Linked DNA regions of Homo sapiens. The protein of the gene in region 3 interacts with the protein of the main gene of each other region in a pairwise test. Each region holds a gene or a part of one and is shown on either strand. Other genes may lie near its edges. The genes, in order: TSC22D2, RASSF2, PRMT3 and BEND7.

Region 1 (7,603 bases), on a different chromosome or scaffold from region 3:
TGGTTTGGGCAAGGGGGTGTGAGCATGAAGTATGCCAAATTTACCAACTTAAAGGAGTTTGTATTACAAAAGATTTGATTGTGTAATTTGGAGAGTTCCTGTAGTGCATTTATAGTTGTGATTGTAACTCAATGCAAAGTTAGAGGAGTCTTTGAGTAAAGCAAGGCATTTATTTTATTTATTTATTTTTTGCAGTATTTTAATTAAAGATACATAAAATTTTTAAGGCATCTTCAGCTTTCTAACAAACCAGAAGAACATTTTCGTTCTTAGCAATTAGGTAAACTGTATCAGCTATAAAAAGATCACTAAGCAAGTGCCTTTTCTAAGAGGTTCCCTCCCTTATTCTCAGAGCTGAACCTCTTCTAGGAATTTGCCAGATAAGATAAATGGCATATTCTGAGCATGGTTTAATCTTTGGATCCATGCTTATGGTTTCACAACTTAACATTTGGTACTTAGTTAAAGCACTCTTAATAATACACATAATTCTGGATTTATTTCAGGTCATTAGAGATTATTTTTTCACAGTCTTAGTATTATGGAAGAAAATATGTGTGTTTTGACATTAGGTCCAGGTTTGAATCCTGTTCCTAGTATTGTGTCTTTGAGCAAGTTACTTGACCTCACTTTCCTCAACTGTAAAATGAGAATGTTGCTCAGGCTTATTGTAAGGACTCATTAAGATAAAGGTGTGCCTGCCCTAAAATAGACAACCATTAAGTGTTCTTTTCCTCTATCTTGTTGATTTGTTAATTAGCATTTATATCTAGGGAAAGACAAAGTAGTCAAAATATGTCCATTTTGAAAAAGAGAAGTAGTTCTCTTATTTTTTTTAGAGACAGATCTGGCTCTGTCACCCAGGCTGGAGTGCAGTAATGAACCCTGAGCTCCTGGGCTCAAGCAGTCTTCCCACACAGCCTCCTGAGTAACTAGGACCGTGGGCTTGCTTTCTTTTCTCTTTTCTTTCTTTTCTTTCATGGGTTCTCACTATGTTGCCCAGGCTGAATTTTTTTATTTTAAATAAGTAGTCACCATGTCTCTGTCCACATTACTACAGATAAAGAAAAAAGTTGGTTTCTCATAGTTTTTTAAAAATAGAGATCAAGGCTGGGCGTGGTGGCTCACGCCTGTAATCCCAGCACTTTGGGAGGCGAAGGCAGGCAGATCATCTGAGGTCGGGAGTTCGAGACCAGCCTGACCAACATAGAGAAACCCCGTCTCCACTAAAAATACAAAATTAGCAGGGCATGGTGGCACATACCTGTAATCCCAGCTACTCGGGAGGCCGAGGCAGGAGACTCGCTTGAACCCGGGAGGAAGAAGTTGCGGTGAGCTGAGATCGCGCCATTTCACCCCAGCCTGGGCAACGAGAGTGAAACTCTGTCTCAAAAAAAAAAAAGAGAGAGAGATTAAATTAGATTACCTTTTTCTTTAGTGATTTTAACTTGTGACAGAGTTGGAAATTCTTCATCCATCCTCTTGCTTTCTCAGTAATGTTGCAAGTAATCTCATGGTAAGAGTAAGGAAACCTAGGAGGAAAAGCTGTGGTGGAGAGCCAGTTAGGATCAATTAAAAGATGAACAGCATGGAAAGCCAACCTGCCTTACTGTAGCATTGATACTCTGAGTTATACTTTTTCTGTGAGTGTAAGTATAATTAGCTTTAAACACTGAATTCAAGCTCATTTAGTTATTTTGGAGCAGCAATTCCAGTAAATAAATATTTTCTTGTAGGTCTTTCTTACTTTCCACAGCTCTATATTTCTGTTCATTCTCTCCATATCCACAATTTTTAATGCATCTGTAAATGCTAATAAATGTTTGATTTTTATTCTAAGAATGATTCATAGTAAATAGAAAGTTTATTTTTAAAAATTATCTTTTGACTTTATTTAGCATTTCCAGTTTACCATAATAGTTTAAAAAAGAAAATTCTGAACTCATTTTTCCCTCATGCTTCTGTAGCAGTAATTGTAACACTTGATTTAAAATTGACTTATTTCAGTTTGAGTATGTATCTATACATACACACTAATCTGAAATATTTATACTACCACCATTGTAGGGTACCGGGTATATATACTTTGTGCTGGAAGTAAAGACAGGAAGCCTTTTCTTAGGGAGCTTAAGTTTGGAAACTGGTTAAACCATCAAAATATAATGTGCTGAATATAATAATTAAAAAGAAAACAAGGTATATAGTATTATAACATTAGGTGAAGGAAGGAAATTATTGATTCTGCTTCAGTTGATCTTTCTCATTTTAAAAGAGTCAAATCTCACTATGATAACTTTGAACATAATAGAAAACATCTTGATACCCTCATTGAAACAGTATTTTTAAACCATATTCTGGGATCTTGAAATAAAATAGTCTCTTATTTGCTTAAGACTACCATATTGGTATCTCCATCGTAAATATGGCTAAAGCAGTGGTTCTCATACTTTAGTTTCTATCTGAATCGCCTAGAGAGTTTGTTAAAATAGATTACGGGGCCCCGCCCCAAGAGTAAATCTGGGGTGGGTCCAAATATTTACATTTCTAACAAGGTCTTGGTGGGTCCAAATATTTACATTTCTGACAAGTTTCCAGGTGATGCTGATGATTCTGGTTCAGGGACTACACTTTGAGAACTGATTTATCTGAACTCAAAAAATTTTAATGCCTTCCTCATATGAACCATTAATTGTTTCAAATCTATCATATCTAATTACTATCAGTATGCATTGAGTTACTATGTGCTAAGCACTGAATTCACTTATTCACAAAGATGAAGAAGTTATGGAACCTTTCTCAAAGAGCTCAATCTAATAGGATCAACAGTGGTAGTATTACAATACTCAAAGTAATCACTGTCTGTATTGAGTGCTCAGTGTGCCAAGTACTATGCATTATGTAAACTCATTTAATCCTCACAATTGGCATATAATCCTTATTTTAAATGAAAAAACTGAGGTCTAGAAAGGTTAAATAATTTCCCAGAATTCATATAGTGAGTATATGGAGGAGCCAGAATTTGCTATTCTGCCTTTTTGCACTATAAAAAGTTTGCGAAGATTGGTAGACCCCAGAAAGGATGGAGTAATTGGCTCTACCTTAGAAAATCAAACAGCATCACAGAAGAGATGGCACTGGAGCATCTTAAGGGACAGGTCTAAGATAGCCAGATGAATTGGAACTGTGAGCATTTCCAGCTGAGGGAGCAGTTTCTGCAAAGCCAAGGAAACCCGAGAGAACATATGTTCCACAGACTACAAATAGTTGTATAAGACCATAACACAATAGGCAGATGGAGTATAAGAGGAAAACAGACTGTATAAGGCAGAGGTCAAAGTCATAAAGAATTTTATATGCCAGGCTAAAAAGTTTTAAAAATAGAATTAGGCTTCTTAATTTTTCCTCCTATAACTTTCATTTGTAAGCCAGCAGTTCTCAAAGCATAGTCAGACAGTAGATTCCACATCATCTGGGAACTTGTTAGAAATGCAGATTCCTGGTTCCATGCCTACTGAATCAGAAACTCTGAGTGGGGGAGCCCAGCAACCTGAGTTTTAACAAGACCTCCAGATGATTCTGGTGCATGCTAAAGTTTGAGACCCCTGCAGTAGGTTATAGAATTCTTGAATAATAGCCTTCAAGATAGTTAAAGGTCACTATAGTGGTAGTAATTATATTTGACACTGATTTATTCTATTAGAGTACAACACCTAACAGTTGAAATATTAACACCATTTAAGGGATACATCTTCATCATGATCTATTTATACCTTGCAAACCTGTTTCTTCTGTTGTCATAAAAGAGATCTTAGGACAAGAGTTTGTTAGGTCAGCATTCAAAGAATAGCATGCTAACTATTCTTCCTTAGCTATGGGAATCATTCTAAAACTCGCTGACTGATTTTAATTATCAAAAAAAAACCCCAGTAATTTTTGTTTTTTTTACTGCTTGTTAATACATAAAACTGATGTTGTAGTTAGTATTTAAGGTGTGCTATTTAAACCAAATGTGTTGAAGGAATCAAATGATTTAAGTCATGACATGACTTAAAAGTAATTCAATCTTTCCTTGTCATGTCAATAAAAATATAGAAAGTATAATCTGGGATTCCCAAGCAAACTAATTTAAATGCCTGTCACCGTCTTTTTTGCCAAAATGTGTTCAGTATTTGTGGTGAATATGTCTGCATGGTATCTGGCACTGAAGTATATACTAAAGCGTTATGGTTGACTTAGTGGTTCTGTAGTTTATAGTTACATATAGTCATACTTTGCACAGCTCACTAAAAGCATTTAAAGCCCAGCACATATAAAGTATTTGTTAATGATCCATAAATCCTTTCTAGATATTAGATATACAAAACCTCTTTTCATCTTAGAAATAGTAGCAGCAAGAAGTGAAGGTAGTATGCTGTAATTAATGTGGTTAATGCTCAAATAAACAAACGTAGTTTCCCATGTAATGATTCAAGATTTCAAGGATTTAGAAGTGGAAAGTCCATTGAGGCATTGACATCAACCCCTTGTTTTACAGATGGGGAAACTCAGATCCAGGGAAGTTAAATAGGTGATTTGCTGATGTCCCATAGGAAGTGAATAGCAGGATATCACAGGACAGGATATTTCTGAGCCTCAATCTGATACAACATTATGGGTCCACACCATCTAAAGTAAAGTAGTTTCCAGGTATTTTAGCACTAAAATCTTAGGTGGAGTATACTTTATGAAGAATATTTAGTAACATATAAAAAATTATCTTTTCGTATTGATACAATAAGCTACAGTATCAGATTTTTCTTTACAAGAGTAATTTTTAAAAACCTAATAACTGTTTTTAGAAATAAAATTCATTAAAAAACAATAAAAGGGTATAAATTCCAGCTATTCTTACTACTTAATACATGGTAGAATATAAACCACCAAAGAGGACAATTAGCCTTCTGTGTTATTATCATACAATTGCTAAGGTGATATTTGAACTTGGAATGTGCTTACAGGCTGGATAACTTTTCAGTTATTCCCAAGAAGAACTGATCTAAACCACACATACCTTATAGGTGATTTTTGCCAGCAAGTAACCTACAGTCAAATACATGTAGGTCTGCCAGAATGTTGTTTCTTTTTGTTTTTTTTTTTTTTGTTTTTTTTTGAGATGGAGTTTTGCTCTTGTTGCCCAGGCTGGATTGCAATGGCGTGATCTCGGCTCACTGCAGCCTCTGCCTCCTGGGTTCAAGTGATTCTCTTGCCTCAGCCTCCTGAGTAGCTGATTACAGGCACCCGCCCCAAGCCTGGCTAATTTTTTTTGTATTTTTAGTAGAGATGGGTTTTCACCACGTTGGCCAGGCTGATCTGGAACTCCTGACCTCAAGTGATCCACCTTCCTTGGCCTCCCAAAGTGCTGGGATTACAAGCGTGAGCCACCACGCCCGGCTGAATGTTGAGTTTCTTGTTAACCAATCCTACCCAAAGACTTTCTGAACCATTTTTAGAAGCCATTAAGTTTTTTTTAAAAAACTAGATGTTAAAGTATAAAACTTATACCAGAAAAGTCTTACTAAGAGGAGGGACTAGAAAAAAAAAAGTCAAGCCATCATCTGAATTTTACTACAATAAGTAATTATTGGAATTTCTACATGAAAGGCAATTAGAATGTATAGTTGGTTAATGTAGAAATTTAAGAGATACGGAGAAGACACTGCCCATTTAAAATGTATCCTTTTAAAACCACTGAACAGAGAAATTCTTAATACAATTGAGAGTTAGTTTTAAAGTAGCATACATGTATTACAGGCAAATTAGAAATGTTGGCACTACAAAGGACCTGTAGAAATCATCTATTTACTGAGACTTTCATTTTAGAAATGAGAGCTTTGAGTACTGAAATTGTCAGAACAGAATAAGCTATTTTAAATTACTGTATATTTGGTTTTAAGTGAAACACAAATGTCTTTTACATTCTTTTAAGAGTTGGAAGGGAGGTTAAATTTTTTAGAATAATAACATATTCTAATTTTTTCCAGTGCATCTGGGGGAGGTGTTGTAGCCATTGACAACAAAATAGAACAAGCAATGGTAAGTAAAAGTTTACAGTTCTCCCATTTCATAGATTGTTGGTTGTATGGAACACTTAGCTTTTGTCAGTTTTAGAAAACAAATAAGTTATTTAAACCAAAGATGACCAAATCATGTTTTTTGATAATGAGATTTAGTTGAAGATGCTAGAACGTTGAGAACTTTTAGTCTAGAAATACTATTTAAGTAGATATTTCTTCCATTTGAATATCTCACATTTCATGCATTATCATTGATAAGGGCCATTGGTGAGGGGGCATACATATTTAAAGACAATATGTTCCCCAGATATTTCAGCATTGAAAATACTTTAGAGTGAAAAAGAGTATTAAAGCAAAAACAGCTGGAGGTCTGATTGAAGTAGACTGTAAGTAAGCTATAAGTAGGCCAGGCACAGTGGATTGTGTCTGTAATCCCAGCACCTGAGCTGAGGTGGGAGGATCACTTGAGGCCAGGAGTTTGAGACCAACTTGGGCAACATAGCAAGACCCCGTCTCTACAAAAAAAGTTGGTATTTTTGTTTGTTTTGAGATAGTCTCGCTCTGTCACCCAGGCTGAAGTACAGTGGCATGATTTTGGGTCACTGCAACCTCCACCTCCCAGGTTCAAGTGATTCTCCTGCCTCAGTCTCCTGAGTAGTTGGGAGCACAGGCACACACCACCACATCTGGCTAATTTTTGTATTCTTAGTAGAGACGGGGTTTCACCATGTTGGCCAAGGTGGTCTCAAACTCCTGACCTCAGGTGATCTACACGCCTCAGCCTCCCAAAGTGCTGGGATTACCGGTGTGAGACCTTACAGGACTGTTAGTCTCAAACTATTTTTTTAAAAATACCAAAATTTTAAAGTCCAAAATTACAGATCACTTTAAAGCAGTACTATGACTAGTTTAACATCAAACAGCTTTCCGTTGGAATATTGTTCCTTTGTTCTCTTTATCTACCATTTTAAGCATGTGATTTTAAACTTTTTTTTTTTTTAATTCTAAGCTTAGTTGACAATTTAAGAAGCTAGTATTTTTTGGAAATCGTCCCAAACTTTGAAAAGAAAATTCTGGGCTTACTGCTCTGGTTGGGAACTGGATTTTTTCCAACCCATCTTCCATAGGCTCGGTCAAGATAAAGCAGAAACATTAAAAGCAAGAGCAGGAAAACTAGTATAAAAACTTAGCACCAAGTAGGCCAGAACCAGATAGCACCACCTTTATCTTTTCACTCTTTTGACATTCCTAATTTTGTTTTTCACAGGATCTGGTGAAAAGCCATTTGATGTATGCAGTAAGAGAAGAAGTGGAAGTTTTAAAGGAACAAATAAAAGAATTAGTTGAAAGAAACTCTTTACTTGAACGAGAAAATGCACTGTTAAAATCTCTTTCAAGCAATGATCAATTATCCCAACTCCCAACCCAACAGGCCAATCCTGGTAGCACTTCTCAACAGCAAGCAGTGATAGCACAGCCTCCGCAGCCAACGCAACCTCCACAGCAGCCGAATGTCTCCTCAGCATAAAGCTTTCTTAAGCCTCATTAAG
Region 2 (7,603 bases), on a different chromosome or scaffold from region 3:
TTCATCAAGCCCAGGATGGATAATACCAAGGAACAAAACCCACGTGTTGCCTGCACTGCTTCTAAGCATGTATGGATTCTATGGCTTACTTGGAAAACTCTAATAGTGGCCATTCGTTTTGCAGGGTAAGATTCCAGTTTAGACTCATTGCTGTTGAAGAAATAACTCATAATTGCTTCTGGCATTCAAAAGGAATGGAAAGTAATAAGTTGGCCACAACAAGGGCAGGGGCAGCTTTGGAAGGGACACTGACAGTGTTCTCAGCGTTGCAAGGATGGAGTCCTCATCCAAGCTGAAGAAAGGGTTACAAGCAGGCAGTCCAAGCTGAGACCCTGGTTTGCCATCATAACTGGCAAATAACTTCTCAAAGCCAAAAAGGACAAAGGGAGCAGCTCAGAAAAACATCCAAAATCAACAGAGGATTTGGCTAGAAAGGAGAATCATATTTGACCAATTAGGAACAACCCATGGTGAGAAGAGCATGGGCTCCCTGGGACCCAGTAGAGATAAACCTCATGTTCTGGGGAGGATCGTTTTAAGGAAGGACAATTAAAATGGAAAATCTGAAAGAACTTCCTATTGTAATTTAACTCATATACTTCTGAACCACAGAATGGACCTGGTCAGAGCTTCTGGGGAATGGTGAACACTTGGCACCCAGAGCAGCGACTCCCACTCCCTGATTTAAAGCCTTCATTCTTGCTGAAGCAGGAACCGGTCTCAGCATCCTTATTTTTTTTTTTTATTTTATTTTTTTGTAGAGACAGGGTTTCACCATGTTGCCCAGGCTGGTCTTGAATTCCTGAGCTCAAGTGATCACCCGCCTCAGCCTCCCGAAGTGCTGGGATTATAGGCACGATCCACCACGCACAGCCTCAGGATCCTTCTTAAGACAGCAGTCTAGGCATTCACTGTATTATAGCTGACATCTAAATGACACCATTTACCATTCCTGAAAATTCTACCAAAGTATTTTGCAGAGTCAGCCAGGACCAGCTTGATGCCGCAGAGAAGGGAGAAGAAGCAGGCGGACCGAAGGACCCTTTAGCAGCCCAAACCAAAGGCCACAGGCTCAAACGAAATCTTAAAAATCATCTCACTTAGGGAATAGAATAGTCTGGGGGTCAGGGTCAGGCTGTGAAATGGGCTTGGCCATTGGCAGTCAAATACAGCAATAATACAGTATAGTATAACAAATACAGTATAGTATAACAAATACAGTACAGTGTAACAAGTACAGCTGGGCATGGTGGCTCACACCTGTAATCCCAGCACGTTGGGAAGTCAAGGTGGGAGGATTGCCTGAGGCCAGGAGTTTGAGACCAACCTGTGCAACATAGTGAGACCCCATTTCTACAAAAAACATGAAAATTATCCAGGTAGGGCCAGTATGGTGGCTCACCCCTGTGGTCCCGGAACTTTGGGAGGTCAAGGAAGGTGGATATCTTGAGGTCATGAGTTCAAGACCAGCCTGGCCAACATGATGAAACCCCCTCTCTACCAAAAAATACAAAAATGGCTGGGTTTGGTGGTGGGCACCTGTAATCCCAGCTACTCAGGAGGCTGAGGCACGAATCGCTTGAACCCGAGAGGCAGAGGTTGCAGTGAGCCGAGATCGCATCACTGCACTCCAGCCTGGGCAACAGAAAAAAAAAAGGTCGGGGTGGGGCGGTGTGCACCTATAGTCCCAGCTGCTGGGGAGTCTGAGTTGGGAGGATCACTTGAGCCTAGGAGGTTGAGGCTGCAGTAAGCTGTGATTAAGCCACCGCACTCCAGCCTGGGAAACAGAGTGAGACCTTGTCTCAAACAAAACAAAACAAAAATATGGTGATAGTGCTGAAAAGCAGAGCATGAAACCTGCAAAGTTAGATGAAACCAAAGAACCTTAACCAGACATCCTAGCACCTATGGGGTGGGCAACAATTTTCCTCCTTAAATCCCCTTGGAAAGAAACCAGACCAGCCCCAGGGCTGGCCACATAGTAGGTTTCTCTCAATTGTAGAGAAACATAGATTTGGCTGTGGAGTTTAGCAAAATGTTCAATGTGGCCAACAGAGAGGGCTTGGTTTTCATTTAAACCAGAAAAAAAGGTCACTGTGGTTTTGGCTGAGAGGCGAGCACACTCCACCCAGGCTGGGGCCGAAGGCAGTCAGCATCAGCAGGTTTCAGGATGGAGACAGGCTAGTCACTTGATCCTAAAACTCAAGTCCCAGAAAGACAATAAAGAGGGCATGCCTTGCTAGAGGCATTTGGCGGCGCATTTGGCGGCTTATTCAGCCATGGAGGATAAGGAGGGATGGACTAGGTCTTCCCAGCCCTTCTGGTGGGAACTTAGACTACCACCATCTCACCAAACCCTGGCTCCCCGTATGGTCTGCAGGGAGCAGACCCCTGGCTGATCTCGCTTGGCTGACTCTGACAGAGCCTGACATTCCTTTTCCTCTTCTAGGTTCCCCCAAGATTCAGAGAGCTTTGGTCAGAAGGTTCAAGTCATAAATGCTTTGGAGTGGGGCTATTCTATGAGGAGTGGTCCCAGTGGGGAGGGTGCTGGGGCATGGGGCGCCCTGTTAGAAATATACAGGCTGGGCCTCACTAGCCACTAGCAGCTCCACTCAGAGACTCCTGAGTTCTCCCTAAGGGAGGACTCTGACTCAGCAGCTCCCCTCGTATGACTCAGCAGCTCCCCTCCTGTGACCTCATCAGTGATTGCAGTGACAGGAAGGGGGCTCAATCACAACCACATCTGCTGCTTGTTCCTCATTCCAAGGCTAAGGCAGGTGGGCAGTAGAGGTAGTAGGAGGAGGAGCCAGGGTCAGGGCTGGCTGGAAGAAGGCAGCATTTATCTGCTTGAGAACACATAGAACACCCAAGCATCCCAGTCATCTCCCTGCCCCGTCTCTCCTCACTCACCCCTGAGCCCCCAGGTTACAGCCAGAGTGCCAGGAGGAGGAGGATGGAGGGGGTCGAATGCGTTCGTTGTCATCCTGCATCTGCAGGCGAATGGGCCGGCGCAGGCCCCAGGAGATGTTCAGGAGCCCCTCCACAATGAACTCGTCTTCTTCCTGCCCACAAAGCAATCAGAGTAGTGAGCCTAGAAAAGCCCCCACAGAAGCCAAGACCATGCTGAGGGACAAATGACACATTCTTCACATGTCCTGGCTGGGGGCCCCCAGACTGTATTCACAGGATAGGGGCAGCTGCCCAGTTCACACCGCAGCTCTGAGATACTTTCTGACGTCAACTACTCCAGATCCTGAAGCTGACCTCACAGGTCAGCACAAAAGTTGCTGTGAAATTCAAATACATAGGTATAAATTATAAAAAGCATTGTTTTTCTTTTTATCCTAATGACTTTTAAAGAAAGCGGAATACATTTCTTAAAATAAGTGAGATTAGCCTTGTTAACAGAAGCAAGAACTGGAGTTAGCTACGTCCCATCCCCTACTACGGAAAATGATGTCTCTTTAGCTACAACATCTGTTTAGCAATCCAACCTGGTGGTTGAAGGAAATTTAAAGCAACATTTGCCGAAGTTTATTCTACAGAACACTAGCTCCTCTAGCAGATGAACTGCTGTCTTTAAAAGGGTGTCAAGTGATCATGAGCTGGGAGAGGCTGTGCTAATCAGATTTCCAAACAGCAGAATGTCCCAGGTTCTGTAATAAACTAACGGGCTAAATGACAACTCTCCAACAGGTGAATAAATCTTGCAGGAGTCCCCAATTTATACTCAAAGGTTGCTGACTAATTAGACATTAAATGTAAAACCATTCTAGAGGCATTTATATGTTCTATCCCGAAGAATTGGGACTCGCTTATGACTATGAAATCCTTTAATCATGAAGCACTTTTAATCATTTATTCTATAGGACATAACCCAGGAAAGCTATTTAAGAACTAAAATCTTGCATGGCCCAGCTGCTGATTAGTAAAAGCTTGAAGGGCAGTTCCTAAAAGAATCGGTTCTCCTCCCTCTAGTCTCAGAAAAACCTTTTTGGAGCCATGTTTTATGGGCTATTCAAGTGTTAGATCTGGGTCATGGAACACATCTTCAGGACAAGCCCCATAGGTGAAAATAACATCAGCCCATTGAGCAACTAACTAACTTGGGCCCCAAAATCATCCTCAAAGAGGGAGGAAGGAATAAAAGAGGGAAGGAGAGAAATGAAACAATTTTACGGTGCTTAGGCGTCTCAGGGAGGAAGGCTTTATGTAAACATAGGCAATTTACATGGCCTTCCCCTGGTCAAGGTGGGCATCATTCCTTTACACAATTGTAGGTCAAAATTTAACCCAAAACAGGATTTTGTCTAAGTGGAGTGGTTTGAGGGACACAGAATAGGCCACTACATCCCACATACTGTCCCCAAGCAACCTGCCCTAGCAGCTGAAATTCCACCATCTGTTATCTGTTTCTATGGTTAAATCGCCACAGCTTGATAACCTGAAAATGTGTTTCAAAGGGCATTACACATAGGGACCTTTTTATCAGTCACAGGCGCTTGAGTATAAAGTACCCTACCAGACTCCTTTATAACTCATCATCTATCTGATAACAGGCTTTAGAGAAATGGATACAGGATGAGTAAGCTCAGTTTCAGGATGGGAATCAGATGAGTAACAAAAGCAACCTAGGATGACCAAGTGTGGGGACGGGCCCACTATCAGTGGGGACTCTGCTAACATCCAGAGCTTATGTGCTTTGCCCAGGTCACTGCAGTGATAGGACTTGGGCCCAAATGTTTAAACACAGAGGACTGGGTGGGGTTCCCGAATTGCCCAACGAGAGAACGTCTGCTTGGGAGCCACCTGGAAAGGTCATTTCATGAAAGCTCCCTCTGGAGAATCTCCCCCATGAGACTGGGCTAGCCCTGCCACATTTCTACAGGAATGTCTCTGGAACACATCTCTGAAACATTCATCCTTTTTGGAACAAAACTGGGCCTGGAGTCTTCTTCCAAAGAACCCCAAGGACTCTCACTAGCAACCTAAATAAGAAGCAGGAGAGGCAGGGTTCTCTTGGGACCTCAGGGACCTTCAGACCCAGGACACATGGTGACAAGCCCTGGACTAGCCAATCAGGGCCGTCCCTGGGGACTCCTTACCTCCCGGTGCCGGAGCTGTAAATTCTGGCCTTCATAGTACAAGTTGTAGGTCTTCAGATGCAAGAGAAGTTCATTTCTTAGGGGGAAAAATAGAAGAGATATAACATTATCAGCTGAAGCCACTTATAATGCAGTTGTTCCCTCTTTCTCTCACCTCTCACCTGGCCTTCAGTCACCCCACTTTGGGTAACTGTCCACATGTACATACACACACATGCACATGCACACAGAGTTCTGCCACCACCACCCCATAACCATCTTCCCCCAGGATCAAAGTCAAGAGTGAGCACCACCCCAGAACAATGCTTAAAGTAAGGAGCAACTCCAGGACACCAAGGCAGGCCTCGTCTACCGACAATACTCCCAAACTCAAGCTGAATGAGCAGGTGTTAATAAGCCATGGATTCACTGAGGCGAGCACTTCAGAGCCCACACACAGCGATTCTCCTGCATGGCTGTGGCCTTTTCTCCCTCAAGCACGCTGTGAGTGAGGAAAGGACAATAATGATAGGCCTTCACAAGACTCAGAAGCTGGCTGCGCGCAGTGGCTCATGCCTGTAATCCCAGTACTTTGGGAGGCCAAGACCAGCGGATCACTTAAGGTCAGGAGTTTGAGACCAGCCTGGCCAACATGGTGAAACCCCATCTCTAACAAAAATACAAAAAATTAGCCAGGCGTGGTGGTGCACACCTGTATTCCCAGCTACTCAGGAGGCTGAGGCAGGAGAATCACCCAAACCTCAGAGGCAGAGGTTGCAGTGAGCTGAGATCGCGCCACTGCACTCCAGCCTGGGCAAAAGACTGAGACTCCATCTCAAAAAAACAAACAAACAAACAAAAAAAAAAAAACTTGCAAACTCCCATCAGCATCAGAATGGGTGCATAAAGGAAGCAATAGCCACACAACGGAAAATTATCAGCGAAGAGAATGTGAATGAACTACACAACTACACGCATGTGTGTGACTCATGGGAATTATAGGATATGTGCTTTTCTTGTGTCTAGCTTCTTTCACAAAAAAGCACAGATCATATTCCATTGACAGAAAGTTCAAAATGGAGTGTTAGAATTCAGGATAGTGGTTCACCTTGGGGAGTAGTGACAAGAAGTGGGCATGAGGTGGCTTCTGGGCCCTGGCAATACTTTTTCAGTTCTAAAAATTAAAAAATAAAAACCCTTAGAAACTCCCCCTCTGAAGCCCAGCACTGGACCTCCTTAGCCACCAAGTTTTCCAAGTGGCTGCACTGGGAGTACAGCTCTACTGCACGTGGCCAGAGAGGAGATTTCACCCCCTTTGTGATCAGGGAAATCCCTCATCAACCCTGAGAATGCACAAGTCAAGTTTCATCTGAAAGTGCATGTTTTGCACTCCAGGTGGGATGAGAGGGGCGAGAGGTGGAGGGGGCCACTGTGCGCTTTTGTCTAGTCTCAAGTAAGAGGTGGCAGAGTTCAGCCTCTCTGAACCCAGCCATTCAGTGGAGAGATTTTGGACCACGCCAGGAGTCAAGACCCACTGGAAATGCCAAGAAAATCCTGACAAGTTAAACCTAGATAAAGCAGCATGATTCTATGCAAGCTGAAATAAATTTGTGGAAAATGTGATTCGAAATCACCTAAGACAAAAGGCCGTTTGGTACTTTTGAACACACAGATCTGAAACCGGGAGAGAAAATCATTGGTTGGTAGAAGTCCCTGGGGAAATCTGTCCACAAAGAGATAAGAATGGTCAGATGTCACAAAACATGTGTCAAGTGTGCCTAAGGACTTCCAACAATTTAGTCCCAGATAAATTAAATATTTCGTTAAGATAGAGAAATCCCAGCTGGGTGTGGTGGCTCACGCCTGTAATCCCAGCACTTTGGGAGGCCAAGGCGGGTGGATCACCTGAGGTCAGGTGTTCAAGACCAGCCCGACCAACATGGTGAAAGCCCACCTCTACTAAAAATTAAAAAATTAGCTGGGTGTGGTGGCGCATGCCTGTAATCCCAGCTACCTGGGAGGTTGAGGCAGGAGAATCACTTGAACCCAGGAGGCAGAGGTTGCCATGAACTGAGATCACGCCACTGCACTCCAGCCTAGGTGACAGAGGGAGAGTCCTTCTAAAAAAAAAAAAAAGAGATAGAGAAATCTTATGCTGGAACTTCCAATTCAAGGGTCTATTTTGGCTCAAGCCCAGTCACATTAGCAAAAAGCCTGAGCTCAAGAGACTTTAGTGCACAGAAAGCAATTAAATTGTCCCCTTCTATTCAGAGGGCATTAGCCAGACCCAGAGCAGCCGAGGGACACACTACTCCAGCCAGGACTCCCTGGGAACACAACGGACAGGACGGGGAGCAGTGTCTGAGTCCATTCTGGCTGCCGGACCATAGACTGGGTGGCTTCTAAAGAACAGAAATTCATTTCTCACAGCTCTGGTGGCCAGGAAGTCCAACGTCAGGGTAGAGTCAGTGTCTGGTGACAGCCCTATCCTCACAGACAGTGCCTTCTCACTGCGTCCT
Region 3 (7,603 bases):
TATTGCTTCAAATATATTGTGCAGGCCAGGCGCAGTGGCTCACACCTGCAATCCCAGCACTTTGGGGGGGCCGAGGCAGGTGGATCACTTGAGGTCAGGAGTTGGGGACCAACATGGTGAAACCCCATCTCTACTAAAAATACAAACATTAGCTGGGTGTGGTGGTGTGTGCCTGTAATCCCAAGTACTTGGGAGGCTGAGGCAGGAGAACTGCTTGAACCCAGGGGATGGAGGTTGCAGTGAGCCGAGATCACTGTTCTCCAGCCTGGGTGAGACAGCGAGACTCCGTCTCAAAAAACAAATATAGTGTGCACATAAAAAGTGGCTGTAAAATGAATGAATATCATTTACTTCAGAATGAATAAGATACTTCCCCCCTACTATTCTTTCTCACCTGCTTTAACTGAAAATGGTTTTTCCAGTAGAAATACTGTTTGTTTCCAGTGTGTTTTGGTGCTCTGAGGGCCCGTAGAGAACACGACCTGAATTGGTAAAGTTCAAAGGTATTTGATGAAGTACAAGATTTTTAATATCATGGTACATTAATCTACGACATCAAACACAAGCCCCAATTGCTTACAGCAGCAAAATGCTTATGATTAAACACCTTGGGGCACAAAATAAAATATAATGTACTTCTGTAATAATTAATTCTTATGAGATAATTCATGATACTTACCCTGTTGTGGCAATTCTTCTCAAAATATATATCAAAGTAGCCAGCAATTGCCTGTTTTTTAAAAAAAGAAATATAAATGCTTACTAAATGAATTACATAATATAATAACTCATTACTGTCTCTTAAGACATGGCAAATGATAAACCATTTCAGAGACTAAATACCTCTTAAACTCAATATTTTTCCTGGAAAAGATGTTGTAAGTAAAAACGAAGTAATGTAATTTGGCTTTTCCTCACAGAAACAACATAATAAAGGTAATAAGGCTAATCAAATAATTAGTACATTTTATTAGAGAAATAATCATGCTAGACCACTGAAAGGTGAACACACATGGAGAGAGAGACTCAGCTGGCCCCTCACTGATCCTCACTCGCCAACTGAGATGTCCACCCACGCATTAGGCTATCTTGACTTCTCCAGCTGTAGTCAAGTGTTCAGACAACTGCAGCGGCATGAAAGATGCCAGGAAGGACCAGCAAGTGCACTACTCAGTTAAGTCCAGTCAGGATTGCAGAATCGGAAACAAACAGATAAAAATGGTTTGGGCTTCAAGCCAGAGTTCTGAGATGGGCTATTACATAGCAATAAATAATTAAAACATCCTATTTATACAAAGCCAGTTCATTTAATTTCTTCTAGTCCAGTATATCTGTTTTTAAGTACTATGAATATTTTTGTGATGAAATAAAGATTTTTAAAATGTTACTTATTTTTTTTTTCCTGAAAAAATGAACAGTAGTACTCAAATCTTATGTTTAAGCAAGTACTCAAAGGAGAAACTCCAAAGTGAGCTCTAAGGGTTATTGTGATAGTACAAAAAGATTTTTTTTTTTTTGACATGGAGTCTTGCTCTGTTGCCCAGAGGGATCTCAGCTCATTGCAACCTCCGCCTCCTGGGTTCAAGCGATTCTCCTGCCTCAGCCTCCTGAGTAGATGGGACCACAGGCGTGCGCCACCACACCTGGCTTTTATATTTTTAGTAGAGACGGGGTTTCACCGTGTTGGTCAGGCAAGGCTGAGTAGATGGGACTACAGGCGTGCGCCACCACACCCGGCTAATTTTTATATTTTTAGTAGAGATGGGGTTTCACCATGTTGGTCAGGCTGGTCTCGAACTCCTGACCTTGCGACTCACCCACTTCGGCTTCCCAAAGTGCTAGGATTAGAGGTGTGAGCCACTGCACCCAGCCTACAAAAGATCTCTTAAAGAAATTAACATACTCAGATAAATACATAATTTTGAGTTTTTTGGTTAAATTTAAATACCATTCCATTTTCTTTCACTATTGGAACTAGCTGGACTTAATCACTTTTTAAAGCTGGCATTACATTAAGCTTAGAAAGTGTAAAAAACAGGACACTGATTTTTTGAAAAATCATGGTAAAGCTAATTTGTGTACTCTGCTACTTTTGTTAAAAATGTGACATTTTATTGATCTGGTAGGGTTAATATGGATTAGGTCCAAACCAAACTCAATATTTAACCCTGAGGTTCACTGCAATTTAGATACCAAGAGAGAATCAAAATACTAGTAATAATTCTGCCAAATAGAATTATAAAACAATGTAGTACTCAGCCACAGATTATCATAAAAACCACGTGGTTAATTAGAATATTTCTAAATATAACTTTATCAGTTGATTTCCAGATACTTATGATACCCCTTCACAGACCAATTCAACTGTTTTCTTATTTATTCCTGTATGCCTGTCTTGTTCACCACTATACTCTCAGTGCCCAGAGCAGTAACCTGGCCCATAGGATACAATACAATACAATATTTGATGAGCAAATGTGTTTATTATACATTCTGTTATGTTAGTTACGATAGTATATTACAGTTTGCCTTATACTGCAATTTATTTAAGAGCAAGGCATATGTATAACTCACTTCTATGCCCCTTACCCAATACAATGTTATATAGTAGGTTCTCAATAAATTTTAGCCAAATTAAAATTTTTAGTCTTCAGTCTCAAATATGGCTAGCTTTATTACATAGTCAGTATACTTTATTAAAGCATTGACTAACTGAACTTGAATGGAACTAATAATTTTTAACTCTGAAAAGCATGGAACATGTGGGACAAATATGGAGAGGAGAGAGCTAGAAAAGATCTAATTCTGTATGTAGGAAATGCAGAAGTCTCAGCCTAACCCCCAAATTACGCATTTTCAGGTGAGATCCAAACCCACACAGCAAAAGCTTAGAGCATTGAACTAAAATTTGAATCACTGCTGCAAGTCTCAGGATTAACCTCTGGATAAAACATGCATGGAAAAAAAACCGAAACCAACAAGTAAAGGCCTAGAGAACTGACGTGAGATTGGAAAAATCTGTAAAAGTCTCAGACTAATCCGTAAACTAGGTATGTGTAAGACAGCCTCAAAACAGCATAACAAAGGCTTAGAGAATGTGACTGAGACTTGGTCAACTGTCTGCTCGGACACTAAGACAGAACTTATGGTCTGATTTTAACTGGGCTTGACTGCTAACAACAAACATCAACATCCTTAAGATTTTAACAAGACACACAGTTTACACAACATAGCATGCACAACATCTAAGGTGCAATCTCAAATTACTCAACATACAAAGAATCAGGAAAATTGAACAACTCTCAGGAGAAAAGACAAGCCACCTCTGAGATAATCCAGATGCTCAAACTATCAAGCAAAACTTTAAAGCAGCAATTATAACCATGTTCCAACGGTGACAGAAAACACAATGGAATGAATCAAAAGACAGAAATTCTCAGCAGAGAAACCATAAAAAAGCACCAAATGAAAAATTTTCAATTGAAAATTATAATAACTGAAACTTCCGGGTTGAATAGCAGAATGGAGATGACAGGGAAAAAATCAGTGAATTTGAAGATTGATAGAAATTATCCAATTTGAAGAAGGGAAAAAGACAGCAATTAAAATGCATGTTATAGAACCTTGGAGACCTATAGATCTAACGTGTCATTGGTGGTCCAGATGGAAAAGAAAAAGACACTGATGGAGAAAAAAAAGTTTTAAAATTCTATATCTAGACAGAATGAATGAAGGCATTTTCAAGTCAAGGAAAAGTAAAGAAATTCATTGCCAATAGACTTCCTCTAGAAACATTTTAAAAGAAGTTCTTCAGAAGGTAAACTGGAACAACAAGAACAGAAAACCCATAGTTCTAAAACATCCTTTTGTTTTCAAAATTTTTAGTGTACCTTTTAAAATTGTTTTAAACTCATGTAACAGCCTCTCATCTTTCTGTAATTATACTTCTATAACTGTTATATTTATTGCCAGTCTTTTTTTAATCAGAATTAGAAATGCTTCTCTTCATGTATCTGAAGATGTCACAAAAGCTGCTTTTAAACCCAAATTTTCACAAAAGCTCTTATTAGCTTACTAGGATTTATTTTTCCCCACATTTTTTGGGGGGCCTCCCAAAGCACTGGGATTACAGGTGTGAGCCACCACGTCCAGCCACACATGCTTATTAATCAATCTCCAAATCTGTGTATGAATTTCAGTTAAAAATTTCCAGCCCTTAATAATATAGTGAAAGAAATACTGGGAAGTTCTGGGTAACCAAAAAATAAGTTTTAAGACAAAGAAAAATGACAGATATAGTTAACTTCAGTTGTAAGCACTGGAAAGAATCTATGACAAATATCTGAAATTGCATCTATGTGAAATGCCTCACAGTATCTTTGAGTCTTCAAGCACAGTCACATTTCTAATGAGGTTTGGTTTACAGTAATACTCAGTTCCACAGCACACATTAAACAGAAAGCAGAAGCATGAGGAGAAGTTAGGAAGGAATTCACCTAAAATTCAAACTGTGTGCAGATAATCTATCTACTCACTAGACAGCATTCGTACAGTTGAGAAAGTGGAAGATTGCTGCTCTGAAAAAAACAAAGGGAGTTTCTGGTTTTAAAATGGGTGTCTACCCTCAAACACCAACATGATCTAGAATGCCCCTTAAAGAGACAGGGTTTGTGGTGTTACCTTTTTTTCTTTTCTTTTCTGTGTGATTCTTATTTTTAAAAATTTTTATTTAATTTTAGAGATGGAGTCCCGCTATGGTGCCCAGACTGAAATCAAACTCCTGGGCTTAAGGGATCTTTCTGCCTAAGCCTCCTGAGTAGCTGGGACAACAGTTGCATGCTACTAACTCTTAATTAAAAGAGATTAAGAAAAAAAAAAACCCCTTCAATTTGAAACATAGTAATATAAAACCAAATGAATTATGATTAGTGTTTTTATTTCTGCAAAGCTATTAAATAAGGAATAATGATATAACCAAATATCAGCTGATTTAGGAATAAATGACTTATTTTGTCAGGAAAATATAAACATGCCACTATTTTCAATTACAGTTTGGCCACCTTGCTACCATCACTTTGACAGGCTATCTTAACATCTTTTAAATGTTAATTTCAATGAATATACATTATCTCTGTGGAAGTCATTCAAATATAAGAATAAACAACCATAGGAAATAATGACTAATAGGCAATGGCAACAAATAACTAACTGGAGCTACAACTTGACATATGCTCGTAAAAGATCAGAGAGGTCTGAAGGCTGACTGCAGAAGAAATTTCTCCTTTGTCTCACGTATATATCTTGTTGGGGCAATGAGAACTGCTGAGGGGGAAAAAAGCATTAAAATCTATCTGTAGGAGTTGGGTTAATCTGCAAAGGCAAGGTCACAGTTAAATAAAATTTCACTGAATTATACCACAGTCAGAAAAATTTATAACTAAAAGTTTAGTTATAAAAGTCCCTTAGAGTGAGAGAAGGGAGAATGAGTGGTAAGTAGTAAAAAAACAAAAACAATGATAGAAGAAAACAGAATGAAAGGAAACTACGTATACATAGTGAATTTCTGGGATAGCTTGATCACTCTTGATATTTTGTGAGAATCCTCGACAATTACTTTGATGCACATAGGAAAATACAAGCATGGAGCTCTGTTGTACATCTTAAATATTCCTCAGCATGTAATAGTTTCAGAACTCATCTTTTTGTGGATTTCACAAAAAGAAAACTCATGGCATTTGTAAACTGAATCATGAAAAAATCTGTTTTAAGCCATGTTTTGTTTATATGTATAAAGGTAAATGCAGTTCATTTAATATACACTCATTTGAAGAACAATGATTTGGGATAAAAAATGACTTTCTCAGGTATTTTAGTGTGATGAATATTTCTTTAAAGAGGACACATTGTGTGTATGTAATAGGATGGCAACCAATGAAATAAGATCAGACTAGACCTTATGAGGAAGAAGGAAATTAAAAATTATCATTATCACTATCACCTGCAGGGAGTAATTTATCATTTCTGTTCTTCATTGGTATCATGTTCCAACAGCATGTGGTTACAGCAGATACAATTAGGCAGCTGGCCACAGAAGTAGGAGGATAATGTGCTTTTGATGGAGTTTATCCAAGCATGGAGATAGAGTGCTTGTAATCCATGCAGCAGAATCACTATAACAAAAATACAATTCATTTTTCGTTGAAGTATTTCTTTCAAAATCTCAATATGGAATGCAAAAGCCAACTGATGAGTCTGAAGCAAGCAAAGAAAGAGTAAGCAGACAATGCCATAAAAATGACTGTTATAGCTTAGATCATCATATATAAACCAAGGAGATGAAAATACAAACATAAGCTATACGAGCTGCCACATACAGAGCATGAACTGTGCTAGTAATAAATGGCGTTTAAGAAGACATAATCAACAAATATGAAAATTATATATTATGATTTTTTCCCCAATTGTAACTATACATTAAATTACGGACTCTTTCTTTTTCAATTAATTTTCTATTGTATCCCAAGAGAAAATCTGCACCTTTTCTTTCATGATTCTCCTCTAGGGAACAATACACATTAAGTGCCATATACGTCTCAAGAGATACTGCCAGATTGAGTGGTGGTAAAAAATAGACAAAGCAATATGGGAAGTAGTAAAACAGGCAATAGTCCAAAAATATTTTTAAAAATACTTTTATTGAAAAACACAATGTAATTTATTTCTGATCTACATAGAATATTTCAAGATAACTGAAACTCCTTTTAAATTTATTTGGGATTGCTTCCTTGTAATTTCAAAATTGCTTATTAAAGTGGTTTTAGGGGGCAAAAATCATCTTCAGAGTCTGTAACACGAATACTTTCATTTTGACATTTCATAAATTGATACCTCACATTTCTTCCTAGCTATAAACACAAAATTGTTTTATACAACCCATATTCATTGAAATTTACTGATTTTTCATTTTAGAAACTGCTTTATAATGTACATTCAGAAAAGTGCACATAAGTGTACATCATGCTGAATTTTCAAACTGAATACAGCTGTGAAACCCACACCCAGATGAAGAAACAGAACATCTCAGCACCCTAGTAGTCCCCCTCATGCACCTATGCCTCTAACGACCTATCCTAATACTCTTAAGCAAAGATTCATTTTTCCTATTATACTTCAATATATAAAGAATCATACATCAGGCAGTCCTTTGTGTCTGGCTAATTTCCTCAATATTGTTTATGAAATTCATCTACATTACTGCAGATGATTCATTTTCATGGCCGTAAGGTATATGTGACTATATAATTTAGTCTACTGCTGACAGGCACTTGAACGGTTTTTGTGAATATACATAACATGGCCATTGGGTATATACCTAAGAGAACTACTGGTATGTAAATATTTACCAGTTTTGTTCACCTTTATTCCTTCCTGAATTTCTGGCCTTCCATCAGGGATCATTTGCTGTTTGCCTGAATATCCCTCGGTACTTCCTTTGGCACAGGTTTTTAAGGCAAATTCTTTCTCTTCTTTTCTGCTTATCTGAAAATATCTTTATTTCAGCTTCATTCTTCTTCTTCTTTTTTTTTTTTCTTGAGATGGAGTC
Region 4 (7,603 bases), on a different chromosome or scaffold from region 3:
TTGCACTACATAAGAGCACAGAAGTTTTTAAACCAGTAATTAGTCTAGCTCAATGGTTCTCAACCTTGGTTGTACATTAGAATCACTTGAGTTTAAAAAAACTGAGATGCCGGGCCAGGCATGGTGGCTCACCCCTGTAATCCCAGCACTTTGGGAGGCCGAGGTGGGCGGATCACGAGGTCAAGAGATCGAGACCATCCTGGCCAACATGGTGAAACCCCGTCTCTACTAAAAATACAAAAATTAGCTGGGCATGGTGGTGGGCACCTGTAGTCCCAGCTACTTGAGAGGCTGAGGCAGGAGAATCACTTGAACCCAGGAGGCGGAGGTTGCAGTGAGCCGAGATTACGCCACTGCACTCCAGCCTGGCGACAGAGTGAGACTATGTCTCAAAACAAAAACAAAAACAAACAAACAAAAAAACTGAAATGCCTCAGCCCCACCCCAGACGAAGTGAACTGACACCTCCAGGCATGCTGCCTGGGAAACAGCATTGTCTGAAAGCTCTTCCAGTGATTCTGCTGTGCAGCCAGAGTTGGGAACTTCTCTTTGGTCTCTCTGCATTCCCCCTCAAGGCTGGGTCTGCACCCTCAGAATCAAAGGGACCTCGAATAATGATCACGATGGTCTAGGCCCCAGGCCTTGCTAAGCCTCATGATTCTCAATTAGAAATGAAAATGTTTTGGTTTAAGGAACACGGGGACTATCTGAGTTTTTCTTCTCCTTTTGCAAATCTAGACACAGCCCAAGTCTCTGGCATCCAGATCTTACCTCTAGGTCTTATTCCCTGTCTTCTTAAAAGAAAGGTGAAACTTTCTAAATGTAATTTAAATCTAAGTCTTCAGGCATTAAACCTTAAGTAAATCTACCCACATGACACAAATTTTTAAGTTTAAGAAAATTAAAGGAGAGTAATTTATTCAGTTTATCCTTTGTGCCATCCTACAGCTTTGGAATCGTTTACCTCCCTAATCTGCAAAGGTTCAGAAAAGAAAACATAGCGACAAAGTGGCATTTACTTAATAGATTCTAAAAAGGCTTCCGTCAAGGATTTAAATGGTTGCAATTTGTAGTTTGCCATTTCAGTAGTAAGGAGCTTAAGTGACAAAACAAATCATTACAATTTCATATGCATATTTTCTTAAGTGCTAACAAATTCCTCCTCGGAGAAAAGAATCCGAACATCATAAAGTAACCTTTCTTTCTGAGCTCCTTATTTAGGAGATGTTAACCTCCTCCAGGTTAATAAGAACACAGATTATCGTAGTGGAACAAGGTGAGTCCAATGCTTACTGACCTGAGCAAAATACTTCCTTGGGGTAAAACCAAATTCAGTGCTTAAAAAGATGCTGTTTAGCCCGGCGCGGTGGCTCACGCCTGTAATCCCAGCACTTTGGGAGGCTGAGGCGGGCAGATCACCTGAGGTCGGGAGTTTGAGACCAGCCTGACCAACATGGAGAAACCCCATCTCTACTAAAAATACAAAAATTAGCCAGGCGTGGTGGCACATGCCTGTAATCCCAGCTACTAGGGAGGCTGAGGCAGGAGAATCGCTTGAACCTGGGAGGTAGAGGTTTCGGTGAGCCGAGATCATGCCATTGCACTCCAGCCTGGGCAACAAGAGTGAAACTCCATCTCAAATAAAAAGATGCTGTTTTTCAGAAAGTAGCTCACATTACTTTAATGTGATCTTGGGTGACTGATATATCTAAGTATTAATTAAGCTTTTTATATCAAAACCACATCACTGAATATTAAAATTATACTAGAATTCACTAAATGGCATCCTGAACAGCTTCTGAGTGACGACCTTCCGGACTACCATCCTGATGAAAGGGCAGGAAAGCCAGTCACGACATGGCTTAGATCAAGTGGTGATGTCCCTTGACAAGAGGGAAAACTTAATACAATGATTTATTTCTTGTACCTGTGACAAAAACAATTCTGTTTTCCCTCAATTGTGAAGATCAGAAAATACAGCTGCTATAATGAAGACGTAGACTTCCAGACTTCTATAGAACGCTTCATGGACTTTAAGACCACACTAATGAAACAGCTTAGGCTTGTACCATGCCTTATAAAGTTCATTGACAGCTACTACATCATTCTATTTTGACAACAGCCCTGTGAGTTAGATATGAATTCTCCATTTACAGACGTGAAATAGGAAGCTCAGATGCGCCACACAGCTCCAAAAGCAGAAATTGGCATCCAATCCCAAATTACAAATCCACTGCTCTTCCGTCCCTCAACTTGCCTGATGGCAGTGAAAACAAAAAGGAGTCACATAAACAAAGACGACAGAACACGGCGGATTTCTGAGCTTCCGCATCCTGAATAGGAGAGAGAAAAGCCACAAAGCATAGCCTGGGGCTCCACATTTCTTATCTGCTTAGTGCTTGAACACTGAAGCCCATGCTTCCTAAAGGACCCCTCCATACACAGTTGTTCCCAAATTTAATTAACTGACATTTGTGAAGTACTAGGAGATCATGGAATGAAGTCTATCGAGTACATACACATAATTATATGAGCTGTATCAGTAGCAAGACAAAATATGTTTGATTTGCTAAAGGAAAAATGGATTGTAGAGAAAGCTGAAAAAACAGATACTTGAAAAGGCACAGCAAGACAGCAAGGTGAGAAGAAGGCTTTAATAAAAGCACAATGAACATTCCAACGGAAGATGTCAGATATGCATTAAAAATCAAAGGACTCATTCCGAGGCCTGATCCTTGTACCTGCTTGAATTTGCATTAATTTCCTCATGGTCTTGAGTTCTTGTAGAATGGCCTGCAACGTTGACTGGCAGTTACAAGTACAGCAGTTTGATCCAGCTGATGAATTCACCACTGGAAGTTCTCCTGAGCATGAAAGAAAAGAATGACATACTCCAAACAAACCAAAAAAAAAAAAAAAAATCATAAAGAGGTGGAGAGAAAAAAGAAAGTATCTTGGCAGGATTTTGAAGCATGTGCAATTATGATGAAGCTGTGCCTAAGGAAAACGTACCCACTAATTATCACAACCTAAATCTGGGGGTCTGACTTTATCTAATTATCCAGGCTTCCATACTGTAACGTGCGTGCTGTGGCGCGGTGCGGGAGCCCGCATGCACACACACACACAATGAGTGGGCACAGCAGGCCTCCCTATTGTCAGAGCTGTTCATCTCAAATAACAACACCTCAAAAACTCACTCGAAACACACTCATGCTAGTTCACACAAAAAAGGAGCCCTGAGGACAGCCTTGCAAAAAAAATTTGGTAGCTGTGTTTAAGAGTTCATATTAAAAATTATATGAGTTCTATTGAAAATAGTTTTGATATTAAGCACATTATTTCAAAAACAAAGAACTGTGCACACATGAAAACTTTTAGAATACTCTCTGGGTGTGGCGTTTGGGGTGGGGAAGCACAGAGGAGCAGGGATGGGAGGATATATTCGAATTGGATGCGTTCGAGGGTATTGGTGGGCTGGCTGGCTTTTCTTCAGCTTCACAAAGAAAATCTCTCTACCTCTTTTCTCCATTCCCATGTCTTATCTTTCCCTTGCCACAGCCTCTTTTGCACTGTTTAAATTTAATGCCTTTTCCTTGGTAAACCTATCTTATTCTGTTTCTCTCATAGGTAAGCAAGTATCTTCTATTGTCCTTAGAATAAAATGGGACATTTGGACATTGCTCTTACAGTGGGTTCCCTCCAGCACCTGTTCACCTGACCACCATAAAATGGAGCAGTTTAGAGACTTCCAGCGCTCACATTGTCTCACAGGCCAGCAAGGTAAGTTCCATGGTTTTGTTCCAATTATATGTTTTATTATACTTTATATACCTTAAATCCTGTAATATGCATTATTTAGGAATACTATAGAAAAATTCACCAGAGCAAAACCATGAAATACTTCAGGATAACTTAGTGATTGTAGTGGTACAATTATTTACATTCAAAATTGTAGCAAAATTGTAATGTTACAACTTTAAAATTATAAATAATCCCAATGAAATACCAAAGTAGTCACAGTTATATGTAATATATTTCTTTTTCTTTTTTTTTTTTTTTTTTTTTTGAGACAGGGTCTCGCTCTGCTGCACAGGCTGGAGTGCACTGGTATGATCTTGGTTCACTGCAACCCCTGCCTCCCAGGCTCAAGCGCTTCTCATGCCTCAGCCCCCCAAGTAGCTGGGACTACATGCATGCGCTACCACGCCCGGCTAATTTTTGTATTTTTTAGTAGTGATGGGGTTTCGCCATGTTGGCCAGGCTGGTCTCGAACTCCTGGCCTCAAGCAATCCACTCATCTCGGCCTCCCAAAGCGTTAGGACTACAGGCACGAGCCACCACGCCTAGCCATATTTCTATTGAAAACATAAAATATCTATTTTCAAACTGATATGGGGGAATTTATGTTTGTAACTTTTACTAACTTCATACTTTTCAAAGTAAATCCACTGTCCCTACTGTATACTGGGAAACAGAACACTGTTCACCCAAAACTTACTGATGTGGGGTTTATTAACTTCATACATACCTAAGGGTATTTTATTTCTCTTATTGTCTCTTCCATGGTAGTAGAGTTAGAAAGGTCTTAAAGAATATTTCTAGTCACTATTCTAAGTACCATCTTTTATCATTTTTAGAAGACAAAACCAACCCTTTTCAGCTTGTTATAAATCATTTTCTAATTTTAAAGAGAACTGACTTTTTATTTTTATGGAGGAGTCTTTAAAGAGCTGTGTCCCTCTAACCTGGAGGCATGCCAGCATTGGAACTTTGATACTGGCTTATGTACTACTGAGAGGCAGAGAAGACACCCATACATTTCTGGGGTCCTTCGCTGTCTCATCAATGTCTCAGGATGGCTTTTCATGCCTCTGAACCACAAATTGTGTTTTTAAAAAAAGTCAAAACAGTTCTCTTTTTCTTGAAGGATATTGTGAAATGAAAATGAATGGAAAAAAATCCTTAACTTCTTAAGGAAACTGAAAATGCTTTCTTACCTTTTTCTTGTTCTCTTTGTGAAAACTATAGATCTGCACATCTCTACAGAGTTTATAGAACAAATATTATAGCATCCAGTGTGGCCGGATAGAAAACTAATATGACCACAAAAAGCATCAGGTTTTTCTCCTTAAGCTTTGAAAAAAAATTGTCATTTGATTCTTTTCTTAACAATTAGGAAACTTAAATTAAGAAAATTTTACTTTAAAGGAATACTTTCCATTGCTAATGAAGCATGTTACAAAATATGGATCACTGGGTTCAGTACTGACGTGGGATGCTGGGTTATCGGCCCCCCACCCCTGTCCGCCCCCGCCTTTATCTGGGACTCTTCTGATAATGAGTAAGGTGAAGGAGTAACCAAGAGGATATGTTAGTAACACACCATAGGACCAGGAAGCTTCTTTTAAAGACAGTGGGGAGCTCTTTCTGCCCTAATGTTCAGGTTTTTTTTGTGACAATAATATCCATACATGGGCACAAAATGATCGCTTTAACCTCTTAAAGGGCTAAAATCTCTACCAGGAAATCTTCACTTATAACATAGAACCCCCTGTCTTTCCTAATTCTCAATTCTGTTTTTTAATAGTCTTCAACTCTTTCCTTTGTGTCTCCCTGTCTTTTAAAGTAACTCAGCAAAGGCAGGTAATTATGGGAGGGTTTAATAAATTGAACTCAACACACTGAATATTTAGAAATAGAACAGTACAAACCCCCATGAGAGCCTTCTGAATGTTTGTTGACAACCATACCATTGGAGCTCGTGGTAGGGTGGGGCTGGCTTTGGAAGGTTCTAGAACGGGTGCCATACTGCCCTGAGAACTGTCCACTCTGGGGCGGTAGCTCATTCCACACACCACGTGAAGACGGGTGGAGGCTTTGCGGGGCCTCAGCAGAGGAGTTCAAACGTGGAGGCCAGACTAAATCCAGGTCCTGGGGCTCTTCTTTTAGTTTCTCTCCTTCTTTGCCAACTCGCTGATAGATCCGCCCAGTGCTGTCGTTCAGCAATCTTCTCATCCCTGTAATTTGCTTTTTTATTTCCATGCTTTCATCTCCTAATGGAAACAGGGCCAAAGTTAGCACTCTAAATTAGTGAAAGAGAAAACAGTTCACTAACCAAAAAGAAGAGAAAGAAAAACAACCCTTCTTTGGAAATGGGAAAGATGACTGACTCTATGAACTTAATCTGTAAAACGCAAAGGCAGGAAAACTGACTACGGTCTGAAAAAACCCATCCTATTCCTGGTGCCTCTCATTTTAATCTCTTTCTGCAAGTCGCTTATGATGAAAGAGGTTTCTTGAGAGTGTGTCATCAGGAACAAACATGACATTCCCTCTTTGGAAGCATTTTCTGAATGAGTAGGTGATGAGGAAACAGGCTGAGACAGAAGGTCAAGGATAGAACTGGACCGCGGAACCCCTCTGCTCTGATGGGCCACAGCCACCCGTGAGGAATGGGCAGGTCACTAAAGCGCTCTGCTCACTGTCTGTCAGCTTCACCAGGCGGGGCAAGGACAAGGAAGAAAGCCTGGACTGGCAGGGACGCAGGGCTTCACTACTGACACAATGTCCTTCAGGATGACTGGCAGGGATGCAGGGCTTCACTGCTGACACAATGTCCTCCAGGATGACACGCTGCCGCTGGAGACATCACCTTCAGAGAGGACGGCCGAGGAGACAGAGAGGCGCCGAGTGTGGCAGCATGGCAAGCGAGGGGGTTTTGTCTTTCTGGCACTCTGACTCCCATCACATCAGCCTGGTGATGACCGAGGGGTCCCTGCCACTCGAGGTCACTGGCGGTACCAGCACTGGAAGGGCGGAAGTGCAACCTCCCCACCGTGCCCTCCTCCCATGCCAAACGCACTGCCACCTCCCCTGCAGCGTAACTGTGTGCGAAAGGTCACAGGCCACTTTGAAATCCCACTTCACCTACACTGACTTCTTTTTTTAAGATTTTTCTCCCGTCTCAGGACATTTTTTTAAAATGAAAGAACTTCTATACTGCACTGGGAGTACTTAATAAATATTAAAGATGTCTGTAATATTGCACAGATAGAAAATCTTTTTGGCCGGGCACAGTGGCTCACGCCTGTAATCCCAGCACTTTGGGAGGCCGAGGCGGGTAGATCACCTGAGGTCGGGAGTTCGAGACCAGCCTGACCAACATGGAGAAACCCTGTCTCTACTGAAAATACAAAATTAGCCAGGCGTGGTGGCACATGCCTGTAATCCCAGCTACTCACAAGGCTGAGCCAGGAGAACCCGGCTCACCCAGGAGGTAGAAGTTGTGGTGAGCCAAGATGGCACCATTGCATTCCAGCCTAGGCAACAAGAGTGAAACTCCATCTCAAAAAAAAAAAAAAAAAAAAAGAAAAAGAAAATATTTTCTATCAATAATAATATCAGAGGATGCTGATATCTGTTAGGAGCTATTTCAAACACACTATCTTCTTAAACTGTGCATCAGCCAGTATCTTCATAAAGATGAAGAGAAATGAATTTTTTTTTCTCAAACCCAAAAGATAAAATCTTAGGCCACTGTTGGGCATGGTGGCTCACACGTGTAATCCCAGCCCTTCGGGAGGCTGAGATGGGAGGGTCA

The links.
Region 1: the proteins of PRMT3 (region 3) and TSC22D2 interact in a two-hybrid assay, tested with the Homo sapiens proteins (one study listed by BioGRID).
Region 2: the proteins of PRMT3 (region 3) and RASSF2 interact in a two-hybrid assay, tested with the Homo sapiens proteins (one large-scale study listed by BioGRID and IntAct).
Region 4: the proteins of PRMT3 (region 3) and BEND7 interact in binary tests that used the Homo sapiens proteins (3 or more experiments, as listed by UniProt).

What each region holds. Positions count from the first base shown.
Region 1 is NC_000003.12:150,451,056-150,458,658, forward strand, and holds part of TSC22D2 (TSC22 domain family protein 2), read left to right. Parts: intron 1-6,020; coding exon 6,021-6,072; exon of another isoform or gene 6,073-6,077; intron 6,078-7,320; coding exon 7,321-7,581; 3' UTR 7,582-7,603. UniProt on the Homo sapiens protein: Reduces the level of nuclear PKM isoform M2 which results in repression of cyclin CCND1 transcription and reduced cell growth.
Region 2 is NC_000020.11:4,792,905-4,800,507, forward strand, and holds part of RASSF2 (ras association domain-containing protein 2), read right to left. Parts: intron 5,182-7,603; coding exon 5,106-5,181; intron 3,063-5,105; coding exon 2,911-3,062; intron 1-2,910. UniProt on the Homo sapiens protein: Potential tumor suppressor. Acts as a KRAS-specific effector protein. May promote apoptosis and cell cycle arrest. Stabilizes STK3/MST2 by protecting it from proteasomal degradation.
Region 3 is NC_000011.10:20,487,046-20,494,648, reverse strand, and holds part of PRMT3 (protein arginine N-methyltransferase 3), read right to left. Parts: intron 731-7,603; coding exon 680-730; intron 483-679; coding exon 395-482; intron 1-394. UniProt on the Homo sapiens protein: Protein-arginine N-methyltransferase that catalyzes both the monomethylation and asymmetric dimethylation of the guanidino nitrogens of arginine residues in target proteins, and therefore falls into the group of type I methyltransferases.
Region 4 is NC_000010.11:13,494,025-13,501,627, forward strand, and holds part of BEND7 (BEN domain-containing protein 7), read right to left. Parts: intron 6,656-7,603; exon of another isoform or gene 6,486-6,655; intron 6,057-6,485; coding exon 5,754-6,056; coding exon of another isoform or gene 5,715-5,753; intron 2,865-5,714; coding exon 2,742-2,864; intron 1-2,741.